Linked DNA regions of Homo sapiens: region 2 is linked to region 1. Evidence: fine-mapped expression QTL. A gene starts in region 1. The other region holds a variant in brackets. All regions are shown on one strand. Distances are from middle to middle. Region 1 holds the start of CMC1 (C-X9-C motif containing 1). Region 2 overlaps CMC1 (C-X9-C motif containing 1).

Region 1 (17,070 bases):
TGTTAATTGTGAAAGAAAATTTAGAAACAACCTAAAACATCAACAATAAGTAAAAAGTGAAATAAATTTTGGTATCCATGTACAGCTTTGACGAAGACTTTAATTTTTTCTAAGCTTCTAATAATACAACTAAAAGGAAGTATGTATAGATATATTCAGTATATGTTTTATATGATTGATAATGATTCAAGCATAATCAAGTGAATGATTATTTCCCTTTAATCTTTGCTTTTAAGTACCCAGAAATCAATACCTTTATAAATTTATCCAACAGATATTTGGTGAGTGGCTTCTATGTCTTAGGCACTGGGAGAAATGCTAGGTGAGGGGCTTTGGCATTTGTGAGTCTTTGGGTCTCTAGCTTACTGGCCACCATATGATATGGAGCTGAACTATGTATATAGAACCAAATCCAGAGAAAGTGTGACTGTCACACCTGGAGTAGCATAACACATGGGTCTTCAAAGAAAGAAGGCCTGGCATGAGTATTGAGAGCTAAAGTATTGAGAGCTAAGGGATTTTCAGCCAGAGAAGGTGAAAGCAAAGAAGAGCAGATTACAACAGGCAAAGAATAGGCAAATAGTAATATGGGGTCATCCCGACAAACTAGTAGGCTGCTTCCTGTGCTTGGATTTTCATGTATTCTCATCCAGTTCTGTTGCTTGTATGATCTTATTCTATGGGCATTGAGAGAACCATTGCAGGTCTTTGTATTAATTATGACAATGTTTTTGAGTAGCAAGAGGCAGGAACCAACTTAAACAAACATGGGAAACAACGAGCAAGTGTTCTTTTAGACCAGATTGCATGCAGATTGATTGTCTTGGAATATAATCCCAAGAAGCAGGAGTGAGGAAGAGGGAAGAGTGAAAGAGGGAAGGACAGAAAGATAATACATGAATGTATCATTAAGTTTCCTACTTCACAGGTGACTGGTGTGGTTTACCACGAGACCTTTGCAGGAATCTTTAAAATGTGTTTCAAGATTGTCTGCCTGGGGAATTAAAAAATGGCGCACATTTATCCATTGGATTCCATTCACTATTAATCAAGGTAGTCCTACCGGCGTTAACTTCCCCTACACTTCTAGATTGTATATGAACTGCTACTGAGAGGGTGCCTGTGCATGTTCCATGGTGTAGTGTCAGAAGCAAGTGAGAGGCACAAGGCTGAGGCAAGGTGCTGTCAAGTTGCACCTACATGAAGAAGGTTGAAGGAAGCTTGAAAAGAACCAGCCCCATGTATAAGATTTGGGCCAAAAGTATTTGAAGTGGTGCACAAGAGGTGTCCTATGTATGTCTGTTGTGGCTCAACAAAGAGCAAAGACACAGAAAGGCAGATATAGAGCTGAGCCTCACAGAAACTGCAACTGGAAACCAAACTTCTTCTGGACTTTCTCAGTCTTAAGTCTCTGTATCTCTTTGGTTGGGCTTCACCTTTTTCCTCTCCCTATAGGTAGCTTTCACTACATGGCAAAAACTAGTCTTTTAATGACTTCTACATATTTTGCATTTAACAATTGCAGACTCAGAATACAAACTGAGATGTTAGACTCACATCTATAATTTCTAGGACAGAGTTTCATCAGCCTTTCATAGGCCAGGTATCCATTTTTGGACCAATGAATATGGGTAAAGAGAGATGTCATGTAAGGACACGAGGACACTGGTAGAAACCATATAATAAAGTAGGGAAGGAACAGAAGAGCAAGATGCCAAGCAGACAATACCAGAAATGTGTACCTCATGTCCTGAGTTAAGAAAACATCTCTTAAAGTATATAGAACCTGGAAGTACCTATAGCAAATAACCAGAAAGGACGAAAATAGTGTCAGAATTAAGGCAGGAGTTAGGGACAGGGAAAAGAACAGAAATGATATTAATAAAGAATAATTGATGGGCCATGTGACCCACTTCAGTTTTACATGGTGCCCTTACATTCTCCATTAACAGGAATTTGTGCAAGAAGCATTTATGATGCCAAGTCCTGTGAGAAATGTAGGGGACTACCATAGCACATAAGACACAATCTCTTTCCTCAGAAAGCAGATAGTCATGTGACTTAGTAACAACAGCAATACCTTATTTTTATAGGACATCTTTCATCTACACTTTGAGATCCCTGGCTCCATGACACAGAATCAAATTAATAGAAGTTAACATAAACACTCTTCTTTACTAAAGGTCAAGGCCTGAGTTCTTTGGGATGTCTTCATTTGGACTTAATGCTTCATGTCTAATTGGTAAAGATACCAGAATCAGTGATGTGGGATTGTTTTGTTTGAGCATAGCACTGGGAAGAAAGCATTGAAACTTGATAGCAATACTTAACATTAGATTTTTTTTTTCTTGTATCTTCTTTGGCTCCAAATAGTAGTGGATAATCTAGCTATTTTAACCATATTCATAGGGCATGGCACTAATCCCACACCTATTCTACATGGTAAAAGCTTTGTCAATGAGGACTCCATTTGCCTTTCTCTTGTTGAAAATCTAATTATTCTTTAAGACCTACTCGAACATAAGCAAGTATATAAAGTCTTCTGAAAGTCAAATTAATTTATCCATTCTTTGGGCTCCCATATCATCATCTATCAGTTGAATTGTAATTATTTGTTCATATATTTTTCTATCTCCCTCTAGACTTTGAGTCCTTAAAGGCAGAAACCTCATCTTACTGATCTTTATTTTCCCAGGATTCAGTACAGTGAGCGGCATACAGAAAATTCTCTGATCTGAAGGAGGAATGGTGCTCAATTAAGACATTTGTCTTCTTTCAGATTAGCAGGGTGGAGATACTTGGTGTTAAGTCACTAAAGTTTTCATAACTTTGTTTCCTCTAAATGAGCAAAAGGTCTCTGACTTGTTTTCAGTGCAGTTGACCCACTAACTGGTATGTCATTGATGTTTCAGGCTCGGTGTACAACAAAAAACACTCCTGTGTTTTCTTCGTCAGTTCCTATGAGAAATTCTACAGAGGATCATAGCACCCACACAAAGCCAAAATAGGAGAAATCCAAGATAAGTCATGTCATAGTATTATTATTACTTTTGAAAATTATTTCATTTTCTAGGAATAGAGCCTCTGACCCCAGAGAATATTGTGGTCTGTCTCAAAGGAGGCCACCCAGAAAACCATACACAGTAAAAACAAAACATAAAATATAGAAAGCCTTCTGCAGAGGTGAGAGGTGATATTTCACACTTTTTTTTCTCACCTGATAAATGATAGGGCACACTGCTAAATCTCCTTTCTTCATTTGAAGGTTGTTTCACATAATACTGATTTAAACCCATTGTTGTCTAGATTTCAATCCTGAAGGCAGAGTAGCTCTGAATAAAACATTTTTAAAAACTACATATCCTGTAATAATAGTTTGAAAGAACAGTTTTCAAAAGTGAAAATAGAGAGGACAATCATCATAGTAACAATTACTATAGTTTAAGAATGGCCTACTGTGTGCTGGACACCACTGTCAGCGTTTGTAACAGGGCATCATTAAGGCTCAAATCAATCATGCGGAGGTGGGTTATATTTGTACAGATGAAAAAATTGAGGCTCAGGAGGATAAACAATTTACCAAAAGTTACATTTAAAGTAGCAGAGCAGCTATCTCTATATATACAACAACATGAATAAATCTCATAACCATGAAGTTGAGCAAAAAAAAGCCAGATAGGAAAGACTACACACTGTATGATTACATTTATATAAAGATCAAAAACAGGCAAAACTAATCAATGCTCAGAGAAGTTATGAGAGTAGCTACTTTTGTAGAGAGAGGTTTTACTAAAAGGAGATAAAAAGGAAAGTTCTGGATGACTAGAAATGTTCTATATTTTGACAGAACATTATTCTGGGTGGTAGTTCAAAGTGTATAAACATGTAAATGTTCTATATTTTGACAGAGCATTATTTTGGGTGGTAGTTCAAAGTGTATAAATACGTAAATACTTAGCTGCACAAAGATTTGTAGTCTTTACTGTATATAAGTTATATCTCAATTTAAAAAGTTAAGTAAAGTAGGGGAGAAAAATGAGTTTAGCTCTGTGTATTAGGCCATTCTCACGTTGCTCTAAAGAAATACTAAGACTGGATAATTTATACCAAAAAGAAGTGTAACTGGCTCATAGGTTGGATAGGAAGCATGATGCTGGTATCTGCTTGGCTTCTGGGGAGCCTTCAGGAAACTTATAATCATAGTGGAAGGTGAAGGAGGAGCAGACATGTCACATGGCCAGAGCAGGAGTGGGAGAGAGAGGAGGTGCCACACACTTTTAAACAGATCTCACAAGATCTCATTCACTATCGCAAGGACAGTACCAAGAGGATGGTGCTAAAGCATTCATGAGAAATCTGCCCCCATGATCCAATCACCTCCCAACAGGCCCCACCTCAAATATAGGGGATTACATTCAGCATGAGATTTGGGTGAGTACATACATCCAAATTATATCACTCTGTTTAGTTCCAATGGTCCTAGTGAAAACTAGATACTTTTTCTGCATCAGTTTCAAGTTTTTATATTAACTACAAACTCTTACCCATTTTTCCAGGATAGCCCAAAGAAGTCTTTACAGGTAATTTAATAAACCATTGTATGTAAGTTAATGTAGCAGAAATTGCAGATTACAAGGAGGTTGGTTACGAAAAGTTGATATAGTAATCTGGGACTAAGTTTATAAAGAGTTTTGTGAACCTTACTAAAAGAAGGGGTTTGAATTTTATTTATATAAGGAACTACTGAGGATTTATATATGTATGTATGTATGCATGTATTTGTTTCAACTGGCAAGTTAGATAGTATATATTTATAGTGTACATCATGACGTTTAAAATACATATTGTGGAATGACAAAATAAAGTTATTTAACATATGCATTACTCTACATACTTATCTTTTTTTTGTAATGGGAATACATAAAATTTATTACAGAGTAGCAGTTTTCAAATAGACAATATATTGTTACTAACTGAAGTGATCATGATGTACAGTAGATCTCTTGAACTTATCCTTCCTGTCTAATGGAAATTTTCTATTTTTTTAATTAACATTTCCCCAAGGTCCCCAAACCCCTAGCTTCTGGTTACCACCATTTTACTCTCTGTTTCTATAAGTTTGGTTTTTTCACACTGCACATATAAGTAAGATCATGCGGTATTTTTCTTTCTGTGCTGAGCTTATTTCACGCAAGAGTCTTTCAAAATTGAAGGACACATAATGTCCTTCAGGTTCATCCATGTTGTTGCAAATGACAGAATTTCTCTTTTTAGAGCTGAACAGTATTCCATTGTGTATATATACCATGTTTTCTTTATCCATTCGTCTATTGATGGACCCTTAGGATGATTCCATGTCTTGGCTATTGTGAATTATGCTGCAATAAAACATGGGAGTGCAGATATCTCTTCAGCATGTTGCTTTCATATCCTTTGAATATATACCCAGTAGTGGGACTGCTGGATCATATGATAGTTCTGTTCTTAAGTTTCTGGGGAGCCTCCAGACTGTTTTCCATAATGGCTGTACTAATTTACATTCCCACCAGCAGTGTGTAAGTGTTCTCTTTTCTCTATATCGTCATAAATGTTTATTATCTTCCTGTATTTCTGCTATTCTAACAGATCTTAAGTGATATCTCATTGTGGTTTTAATTTGAATTTCCCTGATGATTAATGATGTTGAACATTTTTTCACATACTTATCATTTATATGTCTCCTTTTGAGAAATGCCTATTAATGTCCTTTGCCCATTTTTATATTGGGTTATTTGTTTTCTTGCTATGGAGTTGTTTGAATTCCTTATATATTTTGGATATTAGCTCCTTATCATTTGTATGATTTGCAAATATATTCTCCCATTCCATAGGTTGTCTCTTACTGGGAATTTTATATAAGAAATTTTATAATCATATTTGCTGTTGTGGGTGACATGGAATAGAGAGAATAAGTGGGAGGAAGAAATGCCTAGGAACAGAGAGCCAGTTCAGAACTATTACAATAATATCAGCACAAATGGGCAGACCTTGGACTAGGAGTTATGACTCTGATTGGCAGATGAAATAAAGATATATTAAGGAAGGAGAACTGACTACATGTTTTGATCAATCAGATGTAGAGAAGGGACAGTCAGGAGCTGATTGAAGTGGATAGGTGAACTGAGTCAGATTAAAACAGGCCCTATTCAACAGCCAGGAAAACAGGGACAAAGTATTTTATTCTGGTGACAGGCTAACACTAGACAGGTTCTCAGGGCTCTAGTGAAGTGATTTGGGATTCAGGGAATAATTGTAGTCCTTTAAAAATATTTCAATGCTTTTATCAGTTGAACTGTGTCTCCCAAAATTCTTGTGTTGAAGTCCTAGCCCCCAGCACCTCAGAATGTGACTGCATTTGGAGATACGGTTTTAAAAGAGGTAGTTTAGACAAAATGAGGCCATTAGGATATTCATTAGAGTTGGTCCCAATCCAATATGGCTGATGTCCTTACAAGAAGACATTAGGAGACACAGCCACACAGAGGGAAGACCATGTGAAGACACAGGAGAAGATGCCATGTACAAATCAAGAAGAGAGGCCTCAGGAGAAAGCAACTCTGCCGACATTTTTGATCTCAGACTTCTAACCTGCAATTGTGAGAAAATATTTCTGTTGTTTAAGCTACCCAGACTGTGGCACTTCATTATGACCACCCTAGCAAATAATAGAAATGTCAACATGGACCTAAGTCCTTTTAAACCAGAGAAGGCACAAGCCATGCAAACTGGGTGCTAAATAATACAGCTCAGAAAGTAGGCAGGGCCACCAGGGACCCTTGATTAGTGATCTTCTGGCCGAGAACTACTTCTAAATCCTATCCTCTGGTAGAGATGAGGCGTCTAATATTCTTTCAAGTTTGATTCTTACTGACTCAAATTTGAAATCTCATTGATTTCAAGTTTTATTCTCATCTGTAGCAGAGCCAAGCTGCAGATGAAAAGTCTTTACTTCTGATGCTAAGAAGAGGCAGAAGCAAGGAGGGGCTGACTGATAATCTCAATTTCAAAAAACAACTAGCTGCATATCAACATATAGCATAAAGGAATGTTAGATCCAATTCAGAATTGACTCAAAAATAATCAAGATACTTGTTTCTACTTGCACATTCCTTTGCCTTCACATACAAAGAGAAATTCACTGTGGTTCAACTACTGTTATTACCCTGCATTACTGCAAATTTCTCTGAACTGATCTTTCTGTTTCATTATCGCCACTGTTAGCCCCCAATAATGAGGATCAAGGCAGATCATTTCAGGCATGAATAGGCACATTGCCATGATTTTCTCATTTGTCTGTATACATTTGCCAAAAAAAGGAATTATCCAGAAATCTTGACTCTTTGTCTTAGTCTTCTAAATCCAATTTCAAAGGATAGATTCTTCCTTTGCAATTACTCTCACATCCATCCTTTTATATATCCCAGTTGAGGCTCTTTTCATATCTTGCCCAAACCAGTACAATAGCCTCCTTACTTTTCTGCTTGCCTTTTAGCTCTTTCCTCGCTGCCTACATTCATCCTGCGCAAAACTTTTATAAAACACCTTTAGAAAATTTTGACCACAATGCTCTTTTCCTATATATTAACCTTCAACAGATTCTGGTTGCTTATAGTAACACATTCAAACACACCTCTGTCTAGTGTTTAAGGCTGTGGGAATCTGGACTTTTCTAGCCAATGCATAACTGCCCTAGCTTCCCAAATCCTAAAATGCATTGAAGTAGTTTCAAGCATTGCCCACCACATGCCTGCCACACAGCCCCGTGGTGCTTCCTGCCACACAGCTGGGTGCTTCCCACCCCTGTGCTTTTGTTCATGTGATTCCATTCCTTAGCCTGTACTCTGCCATGCTCCACCATGCTCTTTCAAGAACAGTTCAAATCCCAGATGCTTTTGCTCTCATTTTTCTCCCAGCATGAGATGCCCTTTTTTCTGTCTACTCATTGTACCCATCGTTCAAGGCCGAGCATAACTTCTAACTTATCTCTGAAGTCTTTCCTAACCATTGCGGCATTCAATCCTTTGAGAAAGGCTTTTGTGGGGTCACCAGTTACCAGACGTTGCCTGAGCTCTAGGGATCACAGCTGGGTAAGACACTGTTCCTAATTTCCAGGATGATGTCCTCTCCTCTTTCCTTGAGCTCCTTTTGCAGTTACTACCCAAAGAATTGCCTATTAATAATGCGATGCCTCAGGAAATTTCTTCTGTTTTTAATTGCCAATTACATTCGCTTAACTTAAAAAATGACTTATCTTCCCTAGGTATAGATTGTAAAGACTCAGTTTCCCCCCAAAGTATCTGGTTTAACATGGGAGTAGAGAGAGATATACTATTATGTATCAGGTATTGGGCTACCGTTTTTGCTAGTGCTTCTCCTGGTGTGATACGTCTAGCAGTTCATTCTATGGGGCACACAAAACCCATGATATTACAGATACTGTTGCTTAGGATAAGGCTAAAGTAAATAGTGCCTATTTAAGTGTTTTTAAAAATGTGTTGATTTAAAAACAAATGTTAAATAGTAATGTTTCAAGTAATAGCTATGGCAGAAATGGTAGAAGTGGTCCTTTAAAGTCTTTCAAATGCATTGTATGATATCACATTTATTCCTCAGAACAACCTTGTAAATTGGAAACCAAAGTCCAGAAAAATAATAGAACTTACTCAACTCACTAAGATAACAGATCAAACTTTCCTCCTTTACCATAATACCCTTTTGCATATAGAAAGATTTAGTTTAATTCTTGAATATGGGTGTCTGACCTGTGTTTTCATACTCCATCTCCTCAAAAAGATTGCTTTAGCTTTCTAAATCAAATCCTTCACCTTCAGAACAATAAAAGAGGCATACCAGAGTCATTTTGGTGTATTTCTAAGCATATTTACAAAATATACAAGGAAAAGGACCTGATTCCCTGGCTGGGTGAGTGAAACGTTAATTCTTCACCTTGGCACCTCAACCTACAGCTGTAATAAGGGCCGTTATGCCCAAATAGGCCCTTAAACGGAAGACCTGCTGAGCAGAGACCCACTTTCCCAGCCCTGCTCAACTGCCTCAGCTTTTCTGCCAACTGACCAGGCGGAAGCAGCAGCAGGGGAGGAGGGACTGCAGGTAGGTGGGGAGGGGATCATTTTGAAAGCCCTGAATCCCTTGCAGGGAAGAAGCAGCTGCTCCTTGTTTTTCTAAACATCTGTCCCATCTGTCCCAGGCCTCAGCTCACCCTTTCGTGGCTCGAGCCAGTTAAACGTGAATTTGACAAGGAAGCACTTCTGAAGGCTGGTTTGTGAGTGGAAATGAACCTAAGTGCCACCTAGAAAGTTTCTTCTATTGAGAAGAGGTGAGTAGTGGGTCTTCAGCGGGACGGCTATTACCTTCCTTCATTTTACTCTCACAAAACATACAGCTTTTACTGATAGAGGCAGGATTTGTAACATCACCCAAATCATACTGTACGTCCTGAGGATATTATTTCACAACATAGAGGTACTTCTAGAGCCCATATTTTAACGTCTAGGAGAGCCACAGTCTTTGATTTGAAGGAGAAATAACGATATTGCACACACCATATCACCTTTATGGTAGAACAAGCTGTGAACAACTAGTGCGTGTGGCGTTTATCACATTTAACAGCGTGTTGCTTTTATTTGTCTCCTCTGCCACACTGCTCCTTGAGAACAGGGACGTTATTTTTATTGTTATTTTCCCCTCGTATTCAGAACCGTGGCTGGAACTTGGCAGGCATGAAATAGACATTTATGAATGAATGAACGTTAACGAAGAAAAAAAAAGGAACTGGATGATTCATTTGGTTCTCCGAAGGCGGGTATGGGGGACGGGGCTCGGACTTTGGCCCAGTCACCGAGTGAGGCACAGTCCCAAAGTCCTGCAGGTCCGCCTCCAGTCACGGCCGACCCGGGTCTGCAACTGGTGCACAAGCCTCCTGAAGCGAGGCTGCGCGCGTCCTGCACGGTCCCGCCCCAAAGGCACGCAGACACGCCCCCTTTCCTGGTCATTCCCCCTGCGAAGTCAGTTCCACTCTAGTTACAGGATTGGGGCGGGGCCAGAAAGGCGCAGGCGCAACGGGCGGCGGAAGTAGGAGCCTGGGAAGGAAGAGGGAACGGGTCCTGGCGGTGCTTTGCAAAGGGCCCGTGTTTCTGTTGCGGGAAGCTCCCGGGGGTCGCACGTGCGTCCGAGCCCAAGCCCCTCCCCTCCACTCCCCTTCCTGCGTGCCCCGGAGCCGCCAAGCGGCTACGTTCTTCTCGGCCCGCCGAGATGGCGCTCGACCCCGCAGGTACCGGGGCGGGAAGCGGGGTTTGCCGAGGGGCCTCGCCCCGGGTCTCACGCCGCGGGCCATGCGGGCTGGATGCCGACCTGGGAAAGGTGCAGAGCTCTGGGTAGCATTGCTTCCACCAGCGTCTCCTCATACCCGGCGGCTGCTTCGCCCGGTCTGAGGTCATCTTCTCACTTGTTGGGGATTATGGTTATCTGAGGTTGCGTTTGTTGTCTAAAGTATCATCCATTGTGGTTTCCAACTTAACGCGACTAGTCTCTTCATTGTCACCCTCTTTTCGCCCCTTAAGGTCACAGATGCATTTAATGTATGCTGCAGACACTCTGGCCCCAGAAAAATTTGTATATTTGTTCTGGCGCACAGTTTTACATTTCTGTTTGGGAGTTCATGGACCCCGAGTTCATCCTTGTAACCCAACTTAAAAACATATTTCAAAGGATCCATCACTATGGCAGGAGTCAGTTTCTTTGGAAAGGATCTTCAAAATCTTGAATGTTGTTTTAATCTCTTTGCTTCCAGCCACTTCCGTTTGCAGCAATAGTTAACTTACCCTCGAATTCCCGTCCTTGTGGAAGGTCACCTGCAGTATCTTTGCGTTAGGCTATTTTTGCAAGGGAATAGATAACATTTTTGGAGGGAATGGTAGTTGGTCTAGTCCATTTCTTTCATTTTATGGATACAAAAAGTCAAAACATTGAGAGGTAAATGGCGTCAAACTTGGGAGATTCAGAAATGGAAAATGCTCTTTCGGAGCCTTCAAGGAGCATGGAAAATATATGTAGCACAGAAATAATGTTTTAATTGAACATGTTATTACCATGCTAAGTGTTCTCTATTATCCAACAATAATATGTGGTATGGTAGGTCCTTTTAGCTCCATTTTACAGATTAGGAAACTGAGGCGAAGAGAAGTTAAGTGACTAGTCCAGCAGGTAGTGGTAGATCAGGGAGTACTCTAATTTGAAGCATAGAGGAGTTCTGGAACATAATGATCATATTCATTTTGGACTAGGTGGTTATGAAGCAGTTAGCAGTTGATCTGGGCTTTGAGGGATGGAATTTCCAGTGGTTGGAGCTGGAGAAGAGGCAGCCCTATGAGCAAAGGTTTAGATAGTAAGGTGCACTGTGCGATGCTTGGTTTCAGGATGACTACCATGATTTGGTTCTTGAGGGTAGAAGGGGTAGAGTATAAGTGAGGGGTGAGTAAGGAAGGTTCAAGTTTAGGCCCATATAATTTATGGTATCTTTTTTTTTTATTTTACTGAAACGGAGTCTCACTGTCGCCCAGGCTGGAGTGCAGTGGCGCTATCTCGGCTCACTGTAGCCTCCGCCTACTGGGTTCAAGCAATTCTCCCACCGCAGCCTCCTGAGTAGCTGGGATTACGGGCGCCCGCCACCACGGCCGGCTAATTTTTGTATTTTTAGTAGAGATGAGGTTTCGCCGTGTTCGCCATGCTGGTCTGGAACTCCTGACCTCAAGTGATCTGCCTGACTTGGCCTCCCAAAGTGCTGGGATTACAGGTGTGAGCCACCGCACCCAGCCTAATTATGGTACTTCTGAACTTGAAGTGACCTTTAAAGTAATCTCATACGGATGAGGAGACTGAGAATGAGAGAGGTTAAAGATTTCCATATATCTACACTTTTTGAATTTAGACAAGGAAATTTGGGAAAAAAGTCTTCATACTTGCTCTCTTCACTTGCTTACCTTCCAGTTACTCATAAGCCACTCCAATCTTGTGTTGTACCCAAGGCCACACAGCTAGTTGCTGGTAGAGTCAAGTCTGGTTAGAACCTAGGTAATTTCATTTCCAGTCCAGTGCTGTAGACCATGCCACCTTTTGAGTATTGATTAAACAAAGACTTGTTGAGTGTCTGGTATATGTCCCATATTGTTCTGGACCCTAGGGAACAGTAGTACATAGGACAAACAAAATTCCTGCTCCCAATAAAGCTTATCTAGTGGTAGAAAAAACAATTAACACCCCCTTTTCCCCCTACACAGACACGTGCGTGGGCACACACACATACACACACACATTTTTACAGATTGTGATAAACATGAAGAAAATAATGTCATGTGGTAGATGGTGAAGAGATTAGTCAGTGAAGAGCTTTATGAGGAAGTGTCATTTGAATTGGAATCTGAGGGATGAGAGGAAGCTAGGCAGAGTGTGCTTGGCCATCAGGTAGCAAATACTTAAAATATTTAACTTGAACGTGGGTCAGAGTGTGGAGGGGATCCATAAGGAAAGATATTGGGAAAGTAGGTAGTCACTAAATGCCTAGATATTGCAGAGGCTGCAAGTCCTCAAAGGCTGGCTGTGATAATAAAGCATTTGGATTTTTTCTAATGGCATCAAATGCCTTTAGAATCTTTTAAAGAGGGCAGTAACATAATTTATGTGTTTATTATCCTCGCTACAGTGGTAGCATGCATTGTAGAGGGGTCAGGTCATAAGTGGAAGAAGGGAGACAGGTTAAGGGATAGGAGCAGTAGTCCAGGCCAAATATGTTTGTATCTTAGCCCAAGATGGTAATAGACAGATGGAAAGAAATATACAGCGTCATGAGGAGAAATTGACAGGACCTGTGGTTGCATTGAATAAGGATGGTGAGAGAAAGGGAGGAAACAGTGGGCACCGTGGCTCATGCCCTTAATCCCAGTGCTTTGGGAGGCCGAGGCAGGCAGATCGCATGAGCTCAGGAGTTTGAGACCACCCTGGGCAACATGGTGAAAATCCATCTCTACTAAAATACAAAAAATTTAGCCAGGCATGGTGGCACACGCCTGTAGTCCCAGCTACTCAGGAGGCTGAGGAATGAGAATTTGAGCCTGGAAGGCAGCGGTTGCAGTGAGCCGAGGTTGCGCCACTGCACTCCAGCTTGGGCCACAGAGTGAGACTTCGTCTCAAAAAAAAAAAAAAGAGGAAATAGGGATAATTCCAGTTTTTGTACGTCAGCAGCTGGGTGGAAGGTCATGGTCAAATCTAACAATGTGATTATTGGAAACTTCATCAAAGGAAGGAATGGAAGCAATGGAGAGTAAAAAAGTGGAGTCAGCAAGTAGGAAGGTTTTTTTTTTTTTCCCTAAATTGTTTTGTCTGTTTAAATTCCAGAATAAAATGTATGGAAGCCAGTTTTTTTTTTTTTTTAATTTCGTGTTTATTTGGTTCATACGTTGAAGCTTAGTTTCACATTTTGATGTTTTACTGCTTTGTACAGCCCACGATGGTATTTGCCCATATTGAGTAAGTGAATAATAGATACACCAATTGAGGTTCATTTAGCAAAATCTGTTTTCCTATTGGTTTATTTTGTATTTTCTGTGATCTTTATAGAAGCTTGATTTTCATTTGGCAGCAACTTTTAATTAACTTTGTAGGGTCTCTGTTTTCCTCAAGAAACTGTGAACCCAGCGAAAAAATGCAGGTTACATGCTTATACATAGTTTTATTTACATTATTTTCCTTTTTTTTGTTAATGTAGCAGTAATAACAGCAATCTTTGCTTATTGCCATGTTCCGGACAAATTTTCAGACATGATTATATTCTCAGATGATGGCCCATAGGAACCTGCACCTGATAAATTTGATTTTTCACTTTCTCTATCAACTAAAGTAATTCCTTTCTCCCTTCTTTGACCTTTCCCCTTTTTAGTTAGGTTCTCTTCCCTCTGTCAACATAGATTCATTCTCTACTTATGCAGAATGGGGCATGGCAGCCTAAGGGAAGTTTCCTTAATCAGGTGTGTGTGTGTCCCTGTGTCCTTCTATTGCTGTTTTTTTCCGGGAACTTAATAAAAGGAGGAAGATGGGACAGAGATAGGGCTTAGGGGGTGGAAAGTGGGTTCAAGAATTTCATGACATTCCATGAGAAGGTGTTTAAGGTATATGTGTCTTGGGAAGATTTAATTATGGATGTTCTTGGAACATTTGGGTTGCAGTACTCCAAGTTGGGGTTCTTTCAGTGGTTCCTGTGGGAATGTAGGTAAATTACCTTTAGGGGTACAGGAACAGTACTAGCCCTTACATTTACTAGAAAATTTTAAGTTAGACATGTAAACAAACTTGAAGAATCTTTTTTGAGCATTGTATGTTTAATATGTAAAAGGTTGTGGAGTTGATTAGAAAAATTTTTTATTTTTTTTAGTGATGGGGTTTCACCATGTCGCTTAGGCTGCACTTGAACTCCTTGCTCAGGAGCACTTGAACTCCTGGGCTCAAGTAATCTGCCCACCTCGGCCTCCCAAAGTGCTGGGATTATAGGCATAAGCCACCCTGCCTGGCCTATAAGAAAAATTTTGATTTTATTATTGCCGCCATATCTCTAGAGTATCTTCTTAGACATAAATTACGTTGGTGGCTCAGAACAAAAAAAAAAAGACCTAACATCTACATTTTGTATATTTATAAATTAAAAGCATATTTGCCATAGAAAATACATTATTTTTGTCTCATCGGATTAACAACTCTCTGATGGTTGCTCTGTGAAATTTGAAAAACACAGGCTTAAGCAAAGACAATAAGAAAGAAGAATTGAGATCAAAGAGGAGTATGTGCCATGGCAGTGGGTTGGGGGTTGGGATTTCAGTTTTGAAGCATGAAATGATCTGTAAACCATTTCAAGGATTTTGAATTTTATACTAAGAACAATGGGAAGACACTGCAAGTTTTTAGGTAACGGAGTGACAAACAGAACTCTCCTTATTTTGTGTTGATCTGACTTTTGTTTAGATCAAGAATAACCTTGATCTCAGCCACATACTGCATACATGATGTGTCTTTCCAGAGTATCCCATCTGGAGGTACATGGGTATCTGTCTCTCGTAGGTGATGTTAATTTTGATTACCCACTCAAGGTTTTGCCCTGTTTTGTTGCCGTATTTTCTCTGTTTTGCAATTAGTAACTAATCTGTGGGAAGGTTAAGACCTTGTAAATATTTGCTTCTCATCAAATATTTCTCTTTGATTTGGGGTCCATTGATTTTTTTTTTTTTTTTTTTTACCTGATTCAGTCTTTCCCATAATGGTTGCAAAATAATGATTTTCTACCTCCAGCACACTCCCTTCACATTTACTAGATGGTTGTTGACATTTTACTGTAAGCAAGAGATTGCTTTGTTTCATTTTCATTGATTTATGAATTTATTATTGGTATTTTTGGTAAGGACTCATGAACTGCTGTATTTTCAATCGTTTGTACTCTGTTAATGTACATAAGTATTTTTTGTGTTCAAATTTCCCCAGATTTGGCCAGAGTTCCCTTTAAGCTAGCTTCTGGATCTTTGTCATATACTCTCACCATTTTTTTGAGCATTTCCTTTTTATTCCCTCACACAAGGTATCACTGCTTCATCTTGTACCTACCCTGGCCAATCCATACAATTAGTTATTTCTCTGAGAAGCCCTGGTTCCTTTTATTTGGGCACAGTATTAGAGAGTAAGAGCTGGTCACTAGAACTGCATGTAATTTGGGTGGTTTATTAATAGATTGCCTTTAGGAAAAGAAAAAAAAAACCCTTAAGAGAGTAAGGAAAATAGGAGACGGGAGGGGAAAAATCTGAGCAAGGATGTGGTTTCAGGTCTTAACCTAATCAGCTCTGGTGTACCACATGGTACATACAGTTTATTGTGCCTTGGAGGCAAGGGAGCTGGGCTTTCATGCCCTTTTTCAGTCATTGGTTACTGTAGTAGTTGGGAGAGGGACAGCAGCAAGGAAAACAGCAAAGGGCTACCATGGCCAGGGGCAGTCCTGAGAAGGTTGCAGATGTGAATGCTCCAACATTCTCTGCTGCAGGAGGGATACCAGCTCTATCCTAAAAATAATTTATCTGAATCTGTTAGGAATCTTAGTTGGATAGTAAGAGTTTTGATAGTAGTGAGAGTTCAGATAGTGACAGGTCAGATAGGAATGGGTACTTGCACACATGTATACATACACACAGGTGTGTGTACTGCATCCAGTAAAGTGTCACAGGTTGTGGTTAACAAGTTTGAATAACACTGGCTTAAGATATACCTAAGGTAGGCTAAGCTGTACTTTTTTTTTTGTCTTCTAGGCCATCGTACATGCTGTTCTCTCTAGAATTTCTCCCATCTTCCCTATCCCCAGGTCTACTGAATTCTTGTTCATTTTTCACAACTCAATTTAAAATCAGTTTCTTAGGAGAGTTTTCCTGATTGCCACCACCTCCAGTTAAACATTTTTTTTTAAGGTTTAGGATTAAAAACTCCACCAAAATATCATATAACCTATGTATAGAGTTGTTTTCCTTTTAGATATAAAATCCTTTTCTTTGACGAATAAAAGGAAACCTTTTATTCAGATATGATGCGCCTATATGTAACAAATAATTGGAGAAATAAAGAAAAACATAATTTGAAGAATGGGAATGTTCTACCTGTGTAATAAATAGTAAATATTTTTCATATGAATCCACCTCTTTAAATTCATTAGAGACCAGATAAAAGGATAGGTCAGTTAATTTCACCTAGATTATAGAAGATTGGCCACCTCCTCCCAGGGAGGTAGTGTACTGTTGTGGAATCAACACCGAATTTGGGAGTTAGTAAGACTGACTTATTGTCTCAGACTTTGTCATTAACCTGTCCTTAATGACATAATATGAGGTTTGAGGATGAGAAGTAGGGAAAGAGATGTATCAGATAATTGCTAAGGTTGCTTCAAGCCTTGAACTTTTATGATTCTAAATATTAATACTTGTCATAGGTCTCAAG
Region 2 (17,070 bases), 34 kb after region 1:
ATTGGGTAAGGCATTAACCTTCAACCATTACCAGCTGGGACACTGATAAAGCCCACAGAGTCCAAATGTTACCTATTGATGTGAGGAGTACCCTAATGAATATCAATTTCAGCCAGGTTGCTATATTCTTACTAGTTCTGTCTTCATTTTAATTTTTTAACCAGCTTACATGATACCCTCTTTATCTATACACCATTGGTTTTTACTTAATGTACACTGAATTAGTCTGAGTTGCATATTTCACCTAATGTTTAAATACAGTTAAAATTTGTCTTAAGCAATAGATAACATTTAGAATGTTTCATCATTATATACCCTTATACTTCTAAAATTTAATTTTAATCTGGAATTACATGATTCTAATTCTACAGTGAATTTGTATAAGTTCCAGTAACTATGCCATTTCAGTATAATGAAAACTATAACGTAATACAAAAAAATTTTAGCTTTTGGGTGACAAATAGTGTTCATATTATTTAAATGGTGTCAACTCTTGAATCTTGGTCTTTATAAAATATATTTTTAATAATGTAAAATAAACACAAAAGTATATGGTTTTTTTTTTTCCTTTTTCTTTGAAATGGAGTCTCACTATGTTGTGCAGACTGGTCACCAACTCCTGGGCTCAAACAAGTCTCCCACCTTGGCCTCCCAAAGTGCTGGGATTGCAGGCGTGGACTACTGCGCTCAACCTATGTTTCTTTTTGAAGAGAAGAATAGTGCTTAGCACCTTTCCTTTTTGAACTTTGATTTGATTACAAAGGAGAATCCTGATCTTGCTATTGGGGAAACTTTGACAAGATTATAAACTCTGTTGATATCAAAAGAAAAATTAATTGATTTAAATATAAAATTTAATTTTATAGTATTCTTTCTTTGCTAGTGATATTGTTGGTGGTGAATAAAGCCGCTAAAATAAATGACTGAAGTATACTGGTAGATATTAACACAGTGAACACTGAGTACATTGGGAATGGAACTGAAGGAAAACCCTAGAATGGCCAAATCGCTTTCTTACTTCCTCCCACTTTCCTCACCTTCCAAAAGCCAAAACAGTAACCTCCCACCAACTGTAATGATGAAATCATTGCTTTTTCTTGGATCTAGGAGTTAGCACCTTGTGTCTTAGGGAGATGGTTTGACAAACTCTGGATTTCAACTTTTGTCTTTTTCTAGCTGTTTGACTTCACTAATTAAATGATTTATGTTTTCTGTTAGTAATATTTAAAAAATATTGTTTGCCGTATATAGGTAAAGTGTGCATACTAGTATTAATACATTTTTCTCCATAAGAGGAAGAGTCACTGAATTGTATAGTGTTTTGTAAAAATTCCTCATTATATTTCTTTGCTTTTTTTGAAGTGCATAGTTGACATTTGCTATAAAGTCTCTATATTGGATAATGACGTTTGCTTTAGAAATAATAACAGCCCTTTCTCTTTTTTCCTTTTGCTATCACAGGTAAAGACAGAAAAGTATTTTGTCATCAGGGATGGGCTGGAACTTTCTTTAACCTAGCTGTATTCTCTTACTGACTCCTTTCATCCCTTGGGCCCTCTTTTCCCTTATTTTAATGTTTCTTTTGTATTTATGTTGCAGTCTTTATGATCTGTTGTCCAATAAGTGGGATATAGCTCTGAAAGAATTACATAAAGTACAAGGAAGCATGGGTTATTTGTTTGTTTGAAACATCACAGAGCTGTAGGTAAATAACAAAGAAGCTTGATAAAATGCGCTCTTCTGTCAATCACACAGAACTGAAGTATGTTGTATTTTGTGAAATTCCAAAGATAAGTGAATGAACAAAAAACAATCAAGTCAAGAATGCTTAGAATGTTCTTTAGGAAGTTTACAGGCAGGTAATTATCAGAACAGCATTGAAATAGGTTGCAGGGCTGCAGACTATATACATGGTCAAAGTAATCACTCTTCTGTCCAACTGTGTTACTTGAAGCTGCCAAAAATCTGCCTTTTTATTTGTTGTTTGAGGTGTACCACTCTTATTACATGTATTTTTGTCATTAACCAGTGCACCAGTATTAACTAATGCTGAAGTGGATATGCAACACATCTTGAGACTGGTTTTGATATACTAAAAGGAAAATAATCACCGCATATGATGAATAGCTGTTATATATGAGTATATTATACAGTCTAAGAAATACAAGTAGATATAAGGCACAGTTTCTGCACTTTGGACTTACACTGAACTATCTCATGGGTTCCCAATCACCATTGGATTGGTTGATTCACTAGGAAGACTGACAGGACTCAGCATATAATCCTATTCATAGCTAAAGGTTATTACAGCAAAAAGATACAAAGCAAAATCAACAAAGGGAAAAGGCATATGGGAAAGTTCAGAAGAAACCGTGGCACAAGCTCCATGAGTCTTCTCCTGGTAGAGTCACTCAGGGTGTGCTTAATTTCTCCAGCACTGTATTGTGACAACACATGTGAAATGTTGTCTACCAGGGAGGCTCATTAGAGACTCAGTCCCCAGAATTTTTATTGAGAATTTGTTCTCAATAAAACATTTGGGAACCCTCTGCCTAACATGTACCAAAATTTCAGATTCCCAGAAGGAAAGCAGGTGTTCAGCATAAATCATATTGTTTGTACAAACAGTTTGGGCACAGTGAGCCACTCTTATCAATTACGAAATGGGGACACTCCCAAGATCCGAGTTCTCCGATGCCACCTAAGGGCCAATCTTGCAAGCAAGCCTTTTAAGGATAGCAGTGTCATGCCTGCTATGTTAACTCTTTTCTGCACATGGACATAATAAAAGTTACTTAGCAGTAACTATTTGTGTATGCCTATCATGCCTGGTGTTATGCCAATGGAATCATGAGTAATAGGCTTATATCAATCATAAATACAGCTGAATTATTTTAAAAATAACTGAACAAAGTATATAGCAGTCCTTCTTATTTGTGGTTTCACTTTCCATGGTTTCAATTACCTGTGGTCAACTGAGGTTCTAGTTTTATCATTTCATATCATCATCATAAGAAGGGTTAGTATAATAAGATATTTATAGTACAATAAGATATTTTGAGAGAGACCATATTCACTTAACTTTTATTGTTACAAACATTCTATTTTATTAGTTGTTGTTAATCTCATACTATGCCTAATTTATAAATCAAATTTTATCAGGGGTATGTATGTAGAGGAAATAAACATAGTATACATAGGATTTGGTAGTATCTGCAGTGTCAGGCATCCACTAGGGGGCTTAGAACGTATCCCCCATGCATAACAGGGGACTACTGTATAATGGTTATTACTTACTGATCCAGTGGTTCTCAATTGTATGTGTTAGCTCATATGCTCATTATCAGACTCAATAGCTTATTATGATTATCTTGTTTCTGAAAACAGGACAGTTTTGCAATAAAATTATATGTAGTTGGACATAAATACCCTTGAATAAAATGGCTAGTTTTCTTCTCACAGAGGAAGATGCAGTATATTTTGGTTTTAGAAATAAATGAAACTTTACTTTAAGTTCTGGGATACATGTGCAGGATGTGCAGGTTTGTTACATAGGTAAACTTGTGCCATGGTGGTTTGCTGCACCTATCAACCCATCAACCCATTACCTAGGTTTCTTTTTTTTTTTTTCTTTGAAACCGAGTCTCTCTCTGTTGCCTAAGCTGGAGGGTAGTGGCGCAATCTCAGCTCACTGCAACCACTGCCTCCTGGGTTCAAGTGATTCCCCTGCCTCAGCCTCCCAAGTAACTGGGACTACAGGCGCACGCCATGACGCCTCGCTAATGTTTGTATTTTTAGTAGAGATGGGGTTTCGCCATGTTGGCCAGTCTGGTCTCAAACTCCTGACCTCAGGTGATCTGCCTGCCTTGGCCTCCCAAGTCCTGCCATTGCAGGTGTGAGCCACTACACCTGGCCAATCCATACCTAAGTATTAAGCCCAGCATGCATTAGCTATGTATCCTGATGCTTTCCCTGCCTCCCTGCCCCCAACAGACCCCAGTGAGTGTTGTTCCCCTCCCCGTGTCCATGCTTTCTCATTGTTCAGCTCCCACTTATAAGTGAGAACATGTGGTGATTGGTTTTCTGTTCCTGCGTTAGTTCCTGCTGAGGATAATGGCTTCCAGCTCCATCCATGTCCCTCATTCCTTTTTATGGCTGCATAGTATTCCATGGTGTATATGTGCCACATTTTCTTTATCTGGTCTATCATGGATGGGCATTTGGGCTGATTCCATGTCTTTGCTATTGTGAATAGTGCTGCAGTGAACATACACATGCATATATCTTTATAATAGAATGATTTATATTCCTTTAGGTATATACCCAGTAATGGGATTGCTGGGTCAAATGGTGTTTCTGGTTTTAGGTCTTTGAGGAATCACCACACTGTCTTCCACAATGGTTGAACTAATTTACATTCCCACCAACAGTGTAAAAGTGTTTCTGTTTCTCCACAGCCTCACCACATCTGTTGTTTCTTAACTTTTTAATAATTGCCATTCTGACTGGCATGAGATGGTATCTCATTATGATTTTGATTTGCATTTCTTCAATGACCAGTGATGTTGAGCTTTTTTTCATGTTTGTTGGTAGCATAAAGGTCTTGAAAAGTGTCTGTTCATGCCCTTTGCCCACTTTTTAATGGAGTTGTTTGTTTTTTTCTTATAAATTTGTTAAGTTCCTTGTAAATTCTGGATATTAGACCTTTGTCAGATGGGTAGATTGCCAAAATTTTCTCCCATTCTTTAGGTTGTCTGTTCACGCTTATGATAGTTTCTTTTGCTATGTAGAAACTCTTTAGTTTAACTAGATCCCATTTGTCAATTTTTGCTTTTGTTGCAATTGGTTTTGGCATTTTCGTCATGAAATTCTTGCCCGTGCCTATGTCCTGAATGGTATTGCCTAGATTTTCTTCTAGTGTATAGTTTTGGGTTTTACATTTATGTCTTTAATTCATCTTGAGTTAATTTCTTTTTTTTTTTTTTTTTTTTTTGAGATGGAGTTTTCGTGTTGCCCAAGCTGGAGTGCAATGGCACGGTCTTGGCTCACTGCAACCCTGCAACCTCTGCCTCCCAGGTTCAAGCGATTCTCCTGCCTCAGCCTCCTGAGTAGCTGGGATTACAGGCATGTGCCACCATACTCGGCCGAGTTAATATTTTTTTGTTTTTTGAGATGGAGTCTCACTCTGTTGCTTAGGCTGTAGTGCAGTGGCATGATCTCAGCTCACTGCAGCCTCTGCCTCCTGGGTTCCAGTGATTCTCCAACCTCAGCTTCCTAAGTAGCTGGGACTACAGGCATGTGCCACCACACCTGGCTAATTTTTATGTTTTGATAGGGATGGTGTTTCACCATATTGACCAGGCTGGTCTAGAACTTCTGACCTCAAGTGATCCACCCACCTCAGCCTCCCAATTGAGTTAATTTTTGTATAAGGTGTAAGGAAGGGGTCCAGTTTCAGTTTTCTGCATATGGCTAGCCAGTTCTCCCAGCACCATTTATTAAATAGGGAATCCTTTCCCCATTGCTTGTTTTTGTCAGGTTTGTCGAAGATCAGATAGTTGTAGATGTGCAGTCTTATTTCTGAGTTCTCTATTCTGTTTCATTGGTCTATGTGTCTGTTTTTGTACCAGAACCATGCTGTTTTGGTTACTGTAGCCTTACAGTTTGAAGTCAGGTAGCATGATGCCTCCACCTTTGTTCTTTTTGCTTAGGATTGTCTTGGCTATATGGGCTCTTTTTTCTGGTTCCATATGGATGTCAAAATAGTTTGTTCTAATTCTGTGAAATTTTTCCAATTCCGAATTCTAGTGGATGCTTGACAATGGTAGTGTAATGGGAATAGCATTGAATCTATAAATTACTTTGGGCAGTATGGCCATTTTCACGACATTGATTCTTCCTATCCATGAGCATGGAATGTTTTTCCATTTGTATCGTCTCTGATTTCCTTGAGCAGTGGCTTGTAGTTCTCCTTGAAGAGGTCCTTCACTTTCCTTGTAAACTGTATTCCTAGGTATTTTATTCTCTTTGTAGCAATTATGAATGGGAGTTCATTCATGATTTGGCTCTCTGCTTGTCTATTTTTGGTGTATAGGAATGCTTGTGATTTTTGCACATTGATTTTGTATCCTGAGACTTTGCTGAAGTTGCTTATCAGCTTAAGGAGCTTTTGGGCTGAGACAGTGGGGTTTTCTAGATATAGGATCATGTCATCTGTAAACAGAGACAGTTTGACTTCCTGTTTTCCTATTTGAATAACCTTTCATTTTCTTGCCTGATTGCCCTGGCCACAATTTCCAATACTGTGTTGAAAAGAAGTGGTGAGAGAGGGCATCTTTGTCTTATGTTTGTTTTCAAGGGGAATGCTTCCAGCTTTTGCTCATTCAGTATGATGTTGGCTGTGGGTTTGTCATGAATGGCTTTTATTATTTTGAGGTATGTTCCATCAATACCTAGTTTATTGATGGTTTTTAACATGAAGGGATGTTGAATTTTATTGAAGGCCCTTTTTTGCATCTGTTGAGATAATCATGTAGTTTTGGCCTTTAGTTCTGTTTACGTAATGAATTCGTTTATTGATTTGCATGTGTTGAACCAGCCTTGCATCGTGGGGATGAAGGTGACTTCATCGTGGTGGATAAACGTCTTGATGTGCTGCTGGATTTGGTTTGCCAGTATTTTATTGAGGATTTTCACATTGATCTTCATCAGGGATATTGTCTTGAAGTTTTCTTTTTTCTTTCTTTTTTTTTGAATTGAAGTCTTGCACTGTCACCCAGGCTGGAGTGTAGTGGTGTGATCTTGGCTCACTGCAAACTCCATCTCCCAGGTTCAATCGATTATCCTTGCCTAAGCCTCCCAAGTAGCTGGGATTACAGGTGCCCACCACCACGCCTGGCAAATTTTTTTGTGTTTTTAGTAGAGATGGGGTTTCACTATGTTGGCCAGGCTGGTCTCAAACTCCTGACCTTGTGATCTGCCCACCTTGGCCTCCCAAAGTGCTGGGATTACAGGTGTGAGCCACCACGCCCAGCCTTCTTTTTTTGTTGTATCTGTGCCAGATTTTGGTATCAGGATGATACTGGCCTCATAAAATGAGTTAGGAATCCCACCTCTTCAGTTGTTTGGAATAGTTTCAGAAGAAATGGTACCAGCTCCTCTTTGTACCTCTGGTAGAATTCAGCTCTAAAACCGCCTGATTCTGGGCTTTTTTGGTTAGTATGCTATTTATCACTGCCTCAATTTCAGAACTTGTTATTGTTTTTTGTTGTGAGCACTTAGTGCTATAAATTTCCCTCTTAACACTGCTTTAGCTGCATCCCAGAGGTTCTGGTATGTTGTCTTTTTCTTCTCATTGGTTTCAAATAACTTATTTATTTCTGCCTTTATTTCATTATTTACCCCGGAGCCATTCAGGAGCTAGTTGTTCAATTTCTATTTAGTTGTGTGGTTTTTAGTGATTAAGTGGTTTTCTTAATCTTGAGTTCTAATTTGATTGTGCTGTGGTCTGAGAGACTGTTTGTTATGATTTCAGTTATTTCGCATTTGCTAAGGAGTGTTTTACTTCCCAATTACGTGGTAGATTTTAGAGTAAGTGCATTTGGTGATGAGAAGAATGTATATTCTGTTGATTTGGGGTGGAGATTTCTGTAGATAACTGTCAGGTTCACTTGATCCAGAGCTGGGTTCAAGTCCTGAATATCTTTGTTAATTTTCTGTCTCGATGATCTGTCTGATATTAACATTGGGGTGTTAAAGTCACTCATTATTATTGTGTGGGAGTCTAAGTCTCTTTGTAGGTTTCTAAGAACTTGCTTTATGAATCTGGGTCCTCCTATATTAGGTGTATATATATTTAGGATAATTAGCTCTTCTTGTTGAATGGATCCCTGTACCATTATGTAATGCCCTTCTTTGATCTTTTTGGTTTAAAGTCTTTTGACAAAAAGTAGGATTGCAACTCCTGCATTTTTCTGCTTTCCATTTGTTTGGTAAATTGTCCTCCATTCCTCTATTTTGAGCCTATGTGTGCCTTGGCATGTAAAGTGGGTCTCTTGAATACAGCACACTAATGGGTCTTGACTCTTTATCCAGCTTGCCATTCTGTGTCTTCTAATTGGGGGCATTTAGCCCATTTACATTTAAGGTTAATATTGTTATATGTGAATTTGGTCCTGCCATCATGATGCTAACTGGTTATTTTGCCAACTTGTTGATGTAGTTGCTTCATAGTGTCATTGGTCTTTGTACTAAAGTGTTTTTGTTTTTTTCTTTTTTTTTTTTTTTGCAGTGGCTAGTAACAGTTTTTCCTTTCCATATTTAGTGCTTCTTTCAGGAGCTCTTGCAAGGCAGGCCTGGTGGTGATGAATTCCCCCAGCATTTGCTTGTCTGAAAAGAATCTTGTTTCTCCTTCACCTAGGAAGCTTAGTTTGGCCAGATGTGAAATTCTGTGTTGGAAATTCTTTTCTTTAAGAATATTGAATATTAGCACCCAGTCTCTTCTGGCTTGTAAGGTTTTTGCTGAGAGGTCCACTGTTAGTCTGATGGGCTTCCCTTTTTAGGTGATCTGGCCTTTCTGTCTGGCTGCTCGTAATATTTTTCCTTCCTTTCAACCTTGGAGAATCTGATGATTATGCACCTTGGGGTTGATCTTCTTGTGGAGTATCTTACTGGGGTTCTCTGAATTTCCCTAATTTGAATGTTGGTCTGTCTTGCTAGGTTGGGGAAGTTCTCCTGGATGATATCCTGAAGTGTGTTTTCCAGCTTGTTTCCATACTTCCTGTCTCTTTCAGGTACCTTAATCAGTCATAGGTTTGGTCTTTTTACATAATCCCATAGTTCTCGGAGGTTTTGTTTGTTCCTTTTCATTCTTTTTTCTCTGATCTTGTCTGCCTGTCTTATTTCAGCAAGATAGTCTTCAAGCTCTGAAATTCTTCCTTTCAGCTATTTATACTTGTTGCAAATTCTCAGGTTGTGTTTTTCAGCTCCATCAGGTCCTTTATGTTCCTTTCTAAACTGGTCATTCTGGTTAACAGCTCCTGCAATGTTTTATCATGGTCCTTAGCTTATTTGCATTGGGTTAGAACATGCTCCGTTAGCCCAGTGAAGTTTGTTATTGCCCATCTTCTGAAGCCTACTTCTGTCAGTTCATCCATTTCAGCCTCAGCCCAGTTCTATGCCCTTGCTGGAGAGGTGTTGCGATCATTTGGAGGAGAAGAGGCACTCTGGGTTTTTGAGTTTTCTGTGTTTTTTAGTTGATTCTTTCTCATTTTCATGAGTTTATCTAGCTTCGGTCTTTGATGTCCTTTAGATGGGGTTTTTGTGAGGACCTTTTTGTTGATGCTGTTATGCTGTTGTCATTGTTACTGTTAGTTG[TTTG/T]TTTTTTTTTTTTCTTTTTTTTTTTTTTTTACAGCCGTCTTCTGTAGGGCTGTTGTGGTTTGCTCGGGGTCCGCTTCAGACCCTATTTACCTGTTTCCCTCCTGCATCTGAAGGTGTCACCAGTGGAGGTTTCAGAACAGCAAAGATGGCTGCCTGCTTCTTCCTGTGGGATCTTGGTCTCAGAGGGGCACCGACCTGATGCCAGTGGGAACGCTTCTGTATAAGGTGTTTGGCAACCCCCCGATTGGGTCTCACCTAGTCAGGTGGCACAGGATCAGGGACCCATTTAACAAAGCACTCTGGCTGCCCCTTGGTGCAGGGCATGTGCTGCTCTGGTGGGAATCCTACTCGTCTGGACTGCCCCAGTTTCTCAGAGCCAGCAGGGGAAAGACTAAGTCTGCTGATATGAGGAGATCGTAGCCGCCCTTGCCCCCAGGGTCTCCATCCCAGGGAGATCAGAGTTCTGTCCATAAACCCCTGACTGGAACTGCTGAAATTCCCACTGGGAGGCCCTGCCCAGTGAGGAGAGATGCATCCAGGTTTGATCTAAACAGGCAGTCTGGCCACTATCTGCCACAGCCACTGGGCTCTGCTGTGGGAAATTCCTCCTGGTTCCAAACCACCCAGTCTCCCTGGCACCGGCAGGGGAAAATGGCAGACTGGAGCTGCAGTGGTGGCTGCTGCCCCTTCTTCTGGGAGCTCGGTAGTGTTAGGCAGCAGCCATCATCTGCAGTGATGGCAGCCACCCCTCTCCCCGGGAACTCAGTAGTCTTAGGCAGTCCCAACCGCCTAGCCAGTCCCAGTGAGAAAACCTAGATACCTCAATTCCCAGTGCAGGATTCACTTGCCCTTTTCATTCTTGGTGGGAGCCTTTGACCGCAGCTGTTGCAGCTGTTTCTAGTCAGCCATCTTGGCCCCAATGAAATATTTAAATGCTAAAAATTTAAATGACAAAATTAGTGAGAATTTTGTCAGGATGGATGAATATAGTTTTTTAAACAGTTTATGTAACTCATCTTTCAAGGTATAATTGTGTAAAATCTACATTTGAACACAAATGTGAAGAATTACGTATCTTGAAATTTTAAAATATTGTTAAAATGAATATATATTATTATAAAATGTCATAGCTTTTTTACTAATACTTCATTAACAATATTTTATTGTTCTAATCTTCCTAGACATTAACTTTGAATTATTTTGCTATAATAGACTTAAATACTTTCATGAGAAATTAATCTAAAATTAAATATGGCCTTTAAGCAGATGTGCTTGTATATACAATCTGAGTAGAAGATCACACTTCACTTAAGTTACCTGATGATCCTGCAGTTGCAGTTGGCATTTTTTCCTGGTAATCAGAGCCTGACACTGGTAAACATTTTGCAAATACCCACAGATAATCATATTTTACTGAAATACATTTTTATAGGAATCTTGTATATCTGTTGGAAAAATAACAAAGGAGGCATTTTGGTTTCTACAAAACTCTGGAATGTATTAGACTCTCAGATTTAAAACCAGTTATTAATAGCCCGTTTTTGAGGGTCTGGGGACAGAATTTGCTTTGAAGCGTAATGTACAAAAGAGATAAAAGCAGTTTTATTGTATTGTGCTTCATTTTGTTACATTTATAGAGCCAGCACATGACAGCAATGTGTGATTTTGATGAAGCAGATTTTAAATCAGAAGTTATAGGTGACAGTTGCAGCCTAGTATGTATCTCCTTCCACTTCCTTTTTGTGGTTTTCTCTTTTGGGAGATAGAAAGTATAGAATAAATTCTAAATCCTATAAATCAGCAGTTTTAAAGAATAATGATTTCTTATGATTTATTCAAATTTTCAGAATATTAAATAAAGGTGATAGAGATTTTATTCTGAGGCCCATAAACAAGTTTATCTGGTGTCATATTTTAATACATTGGTTGTCTCCATTGTATTTGCGTTTGGTAATACTGTTTGCATATATTTTAGTGTTAGCCAAATATTACATCACTAAAAATATAATTTTACAAAGCAAATAAAGAATTTTCTGATTCCTTTGAGCACTTGAACCTTAGCGTTATGTGGAATGTACTCATTTAAAATATTTATTATTCCCTGTATGTCAGTTACCATTTTATAACAGTGAATAAAATAGACAAAAATCTTGAAAGTTATGAACTTTAGTGGGGGAGGGGAGGATAAATAATAAACATTATTAGTAAATATAAGTGCCTTAAAGAAAAATAAATTTTGATAAGGTCAGTGGGGAGTGCTGATGTTGAAAATGAGGCTGCAGTTTCTAATACGTGATCAATATAGGTCTCACTGAGAAAGTGACATGTGGACCAAATTCTTGAAGGAGGTGAAGGAGTGAGATAATTCAGATATCTCTGAGAAGAATGATCTTGGCAGAAGGAATATCATGTGCAAAGACCCTGAGGTGTAAGTGAAGCTGGCATGGCTAAGGGACACCAAAAAGGTCACTGTGGTTAGCTTGGAATGAATGAGGGGTAGAGTGAATAGGGAGGAGTTCAGCAAAATGATTGGAGGCAGAATCTTTCAGGGTCTCCTGGGTACTGAGGACTTGTAGCTAGTAAGGAGAAAAATGGAAAGATGAAGATTGCTTTGAACAATGAAAAGAGACAGGGTCTGATTTATAATCAGCTCTCATTGCTATGTTAATAATAGGTGGAATAGGGACAAGGGGAGAATTAGAGACACCATTTTTGTCTGATTGTGTGATTGATGTGATTGTGTGATTGATGTGATTGAGATACTCCAACTGACAGATGATGGTGGACTGGAGGGGTGGTAAAAATGGAAGTGGTGAGAATGAGCACATTTGAGATATATTTTGAAAGTAGAGGCAACAGAGAAAGAGATGGCTCCTTATTTGTCCTGAACAAGTAAAAGAGGAGGAGTTATAGTTAGCAGAGATGAAGAAGACTGTGTGTGGAGAAATTATATTATTTTATTTTATTATTGGTGGTAGATGGACTCAGAGTTTAGTTTTGGATATGTTAACTTTGAAGTGTCTTATTAATTATTGCAGTGTGAAACCACTTTATCAGACAGTAGTAAAAATCTCTCTTATAAAGGGAAACAAAGGAGTAGAATGTTTGTACAATTGTGGTGGTTCTAATGTTTTTGTGCACATTATGCAGGTTCTATTTTCTGTTAGTGAACTATCAGTAACATGTTCAACTTGGATAGTGATAGATTAAAAATTGACATTTGTATTCCTTTGCCTTCCTCTTAAGATTTCAGATAGACCACTCTCCCTCCAGAAGAAACCATAACTACACTGATTTGTTAATTCAACAAACTATCCTTCAGTACTACTATGTGCAATACATGGTGTTAGATACAGTGGGGAATAGAAAGACATGGTGTCATAGCTCAATAAAAAGAGTAAATTACCTATTCGGTATCAACTGACTTGTTAATATAGCAGGACCATTATTAGAATTCAGCTATCTTTATTCCCAACCTAGTGTGTTTTCCATAATAATGTACCTTTTAACTATGTCAAAGATAGCAAATACAGTTCATCTGTGTCAACTTTAATCAGTTGATAGTGGCTGTCTAGCACATTGTGAATGGGGTCAATCAGAAAGAATGTCATTAGATCAATTAGCTATTACTTTATATTACCTAAACTTAGTATAATTTAAAATTTGATAATGAGTTTATTCAGTTTATAAAGAGTTCTGTTTTTGGCATGGCCTAGTAGCTCCATTGCACAATTCCTTCTGCAGAAAACTACTATAACCTATGAACAAAATAGGAAAAATAACTACCCGAAAGCACTGGAGAGCAAACAAAAGCAGACAGAAAATAGAAGTCAAACATTGAAGGAAGGAAATAGCACTGGGTGAGTCCCCTGCCAGGTAGGGTGGCTGAAACTCTTGACAAACAAAACCCCTCAGTCTTGTTGGTCTGAAGAACCAAGGACAGGGTTTGGTGTAGCTGCAGGCCTTGGAAAGTGCGTGTGCATGCATACTCAAAGTAAATTAAATTGCCTGCTTAAATGAAAAAGAAAAAAATTATTCAGAAAAAACAGAACCCAAACTTTCTACTCGTATTACTCACAACATTTGCAGTAGAATGCAAAATTATTCAGTGTACACAGAAACAAGAAGACATGAACCATTCTGAAAAGAAATCAATGGACTAACTTCAAGATAACTCATATGTTGCTATTAGCAGACAAGAATCTTAAAGCAGCTGTTGTAATTGCTTAAGAACCATAAGGGAAAATATGTTTGCAATGAATAAAAATAGGAAATATTAACAGAGAATTTGAAGTAATAAAAAAGACCCAAATATAAATTCTAAAACTGAAAAAAAAAAAACTGACATAAAACTTTTAGAATGGAAATGAATAGGAATCATAACCTAAAGATAGATCAAGGAAATACCTAAACAGAGAGGGGAAAAAAAAAGATTTAAAAAATGAGCAAAACCCTTACGGACTTGTAGGACAATAACATAAGGACAACCTTCATGTAAATGGAATGGCATACTTGCCAGAATGGCTACAATTAAGAGCACTAACAACATTCACAAAACACACATCTGCCCAGTGACCTAGCAACTCTTTCCAGGAGAAATGAAACTACGTAAACAAAAAAGGCCTGTATGCTAATATTTATAGTAGTGTATCTATCAGTAGCCAAAAATTGAAAATAGCCCAGATTCGTCTCAAAAAAAGAAGAGATGACTAATTGTGGTGTACTTGTACAATGGGCAATAAAATGGAACAAACTACTGTTCTGTACGACAGTTGAGATGAATTTCAAAACTATTATGCTTAGTGAAATATAAGTGAAAAAAGTGTATACTCTTTTAATATTATGTTCTAGAACAGGCAACATTTATATAGTGTTTCAGAATAGACAAAACTTATATGAACAACAGTTGCACTACGTGGGAGTGGGACAAGTATTGATTGAAAAAGGATATTAAAGGAAGTTTCTGGAGTGATTTTAATATTCTGTAGTTTTCGGTGGTTTGTATTGCACAAAGGTATACTTTTGTTTCATTGAATGGTATATATTAATACTCATTTCATTTTAGATCAGTGTTATCTAATTAGAAAAATGTAGACAAATATTGAACTCTTATCACATGCATGATGAAGTATTTCTGGGTAAGAAAACATATGTAATGTATAGTGTTGACAAGATTTTGGAAAAGCAGGTATTTACACTGCTGGCCAGGAATAACAGCATGAAAGGAGCTTGTATTTAAAAAATTCACAAAAATTCATAAATGTGGCTACTCTCTTACTTAGCAGTTCTACCATTAGGATTTTATCTTAAGGAAATGATAAGAGATGTACAATAAAATATGCATAAGGATGTTCAACATAGCATCATATATAATATGGAATATTGCCAAAAATGTAGTTGTCAGCAGAGTCCGATTGCTTATATAAATTATGGTACAGCCATAGGATATAAGATACATACATTTGTAGTCACAGTAAGTGTGTTGATCAGAGTGAGAAACTAGTTAACAATATATTGTATTTATTCAACAGTTGGCAAACTGCAGCCTGATGCCCAGATTTGGTCCACCACCTATCTCTGTAAACAAAGTTGTTTTGGAACACAGCCATGCTCATTTACTTATGTATTGCCTATAGCTGCTTTCACACTACAGCAGTAGAGTTGGGTAGTTGCAACAGAGACCATATGGCCTACAAAGCCTAAAATGTTTACTCTTTGGCTCTTTACCGAAAACATTTCCTGACTCCTGGTTTAATCAAATTAAATTCTAGAAACACAGGAAAGGCTTGCCTAAATTAACTAATTCCGTAAATTTATGAATACTTACCATGTATCCAGCCCTGCACGTAAGCTGTCTACATAAATGTGACTGAAACAGATTCAGTCTGCATTCTTATTGAGTTTAAGTATGGCAGGGGAGATAGTTATCAAATAAATATTCAAATTAAAATTGATTCTATAAAGGAAGAGTGCAGTGAGGAAATGTTAACAGGTATTATTTCTAAGTGTTGGTAATATTGGCAATTTTAAAACTTGATTCCTTTTCTGAGTTTTTTCTAGGATTTAAATATATTTCATTGGAAAAAGGTAACAAAGATTGAGTAGATAACTAGACATTGCTTCAGTAATTTTTAAAACTTCTGATATTGCTCTGAATGCACAGAATTAAGTTTAATTTACAGAATTAAGTTTAATATCATGTCTGTTAAATATTATTGGTTGCCTATCACATGTTCAATACTGTGAGAAGTGCTGTAGATACAGAGTTGAAGTCTGAGACTTGCTTTTGAGTACCTTATTGTGTGGTTGATAAGAGACAAACCAGGCACAGAAAATAGAATTACACCATATTAAACAATTTATAATAAAATACCTACATGTTACTTTAGAAAAAAATAAGCCAGTGAATTCTGATATAGGCAGGTGAGACTTAATGAAGTATGTGGGTTATCAACTGGACCTTGAAGTACGGCTAATTATTTGGCTAAGTATAGGGAAACTGGAAAAACATTTCAGACCAGAGACCCAGGATTTAAGGCACAGAGGTGAGAATGGGCATGTTTGTTGATACAGCAGCAAAGAGATTGACCTTAGGAAACCAGTGGTGCATTAGGGGATTAATGATGTAGATAAAGACTGAGAGTCAAGGCTGATTTTGGAGTGTCTTAACAGTCTGAAACAGAAGTTTAGATTTGATTTCTGGTTAAAAAAAATCAGAAGAATTTGAAATCTGTTCTTTCTACCTCCCTTTATTCATTTTTTTCCTCTTTCTCTTCTGTGTATTTCCCTTCCTAGGAAAATACTTCATACAAATAAAACGGAAAGATTAATTTTACCACCAAATACAAGACAAATTACAAGTTTACTTTTTAAATTTTGGCTTTCTGCATTCTTTTAAAACTAGAAGCTGTTTTCCATTAACAGTGACAGACAGCAGTGTAACCATGTGTGTTTGCTAGAACTAAAGAGACGTCCCTATCTCAGATTGCTGTGGCATAACCCGTGGCATTTATTCAGAGTGAGGCTGTTTTAAGAGAATGAGCATTAACTGCAATGTAGTCCTACAGAGATAACTGAACAGTCTTTTTGCTATTGTTCTTACAGGTGTCCTACGCATTATTCCTTACCTTCTCTGGAGAAATTGATTCACCAGATTTGTCAGATTTTTAAATGTAATATTTTGTTTTATTTGAAATCAAAGCTAAAGAAATATGTTCTTTGCTCTAAGAACATATTTTAGCTATGTTTAGCTAAATAGCTAAACACAGTTTAATCTTTTAATTTAATGGCTACTGACTTGTGCTTACATAATCTGAAAGTTCACATTGTCAGGCTGCTTTTTTCCTTCTAATCAACACCAGTAATTTTACTCTGCATTCTAATATATTACCTGTGTTATTATCTTTAAAATGCATCCACGAATGATCTGTTTACATTTAACTTTTTCATCCCTTTGATTCTTCATCATAACCTTAAAACTTTGGTTTTAATGACAATCAAATTCAAACCAGAACGAATTTAACTCTAAGTTCATATTATTAGATATCTTTCCTTATTTCAGCTATCTCTACCAGCAGAGCTTAAGAAAATCCGATTTGACTTGACTAGACTTACTAGGACATATCTTTCTGTAAGATTTCCAGGTCATCACACACAGCTCAGCTTCTTTTTGACTTTCTGAACTTTGCCATG

Evidence for each region.
Region 2: its variant is fine-mapped to the expression of CMC1 in subcutaneous fat (TwinsUK, PIP 0.95).

What each region holds. Positions count from the first base shown.
Region 1 is chr3:28,231,483-28,248,552 of GRCh38, forward strand. CMC1 (C-X9-C motif containing 1) reads left to right here and starts at 10,137. Exons shown (of 4, transcript NM_182523.2): 1 at 10,137-10,330. The coding sequence starts at 10,312. RefSeq lists a silencer at 10,350-10,429.
Region 2 is chr3:28,265,950-28,283,019 of GRCh38, forward strand. All of the region lies in intron 2 of CMC1 (C-X9-C motif containing 1), which reads left to right. Among named protein-coding and RNA genes, the nearest start is that of CMC1, 33 kb to the left of the region's middle. The variant TTTG/T (reference allele first, on the strand shown) is at 9,376.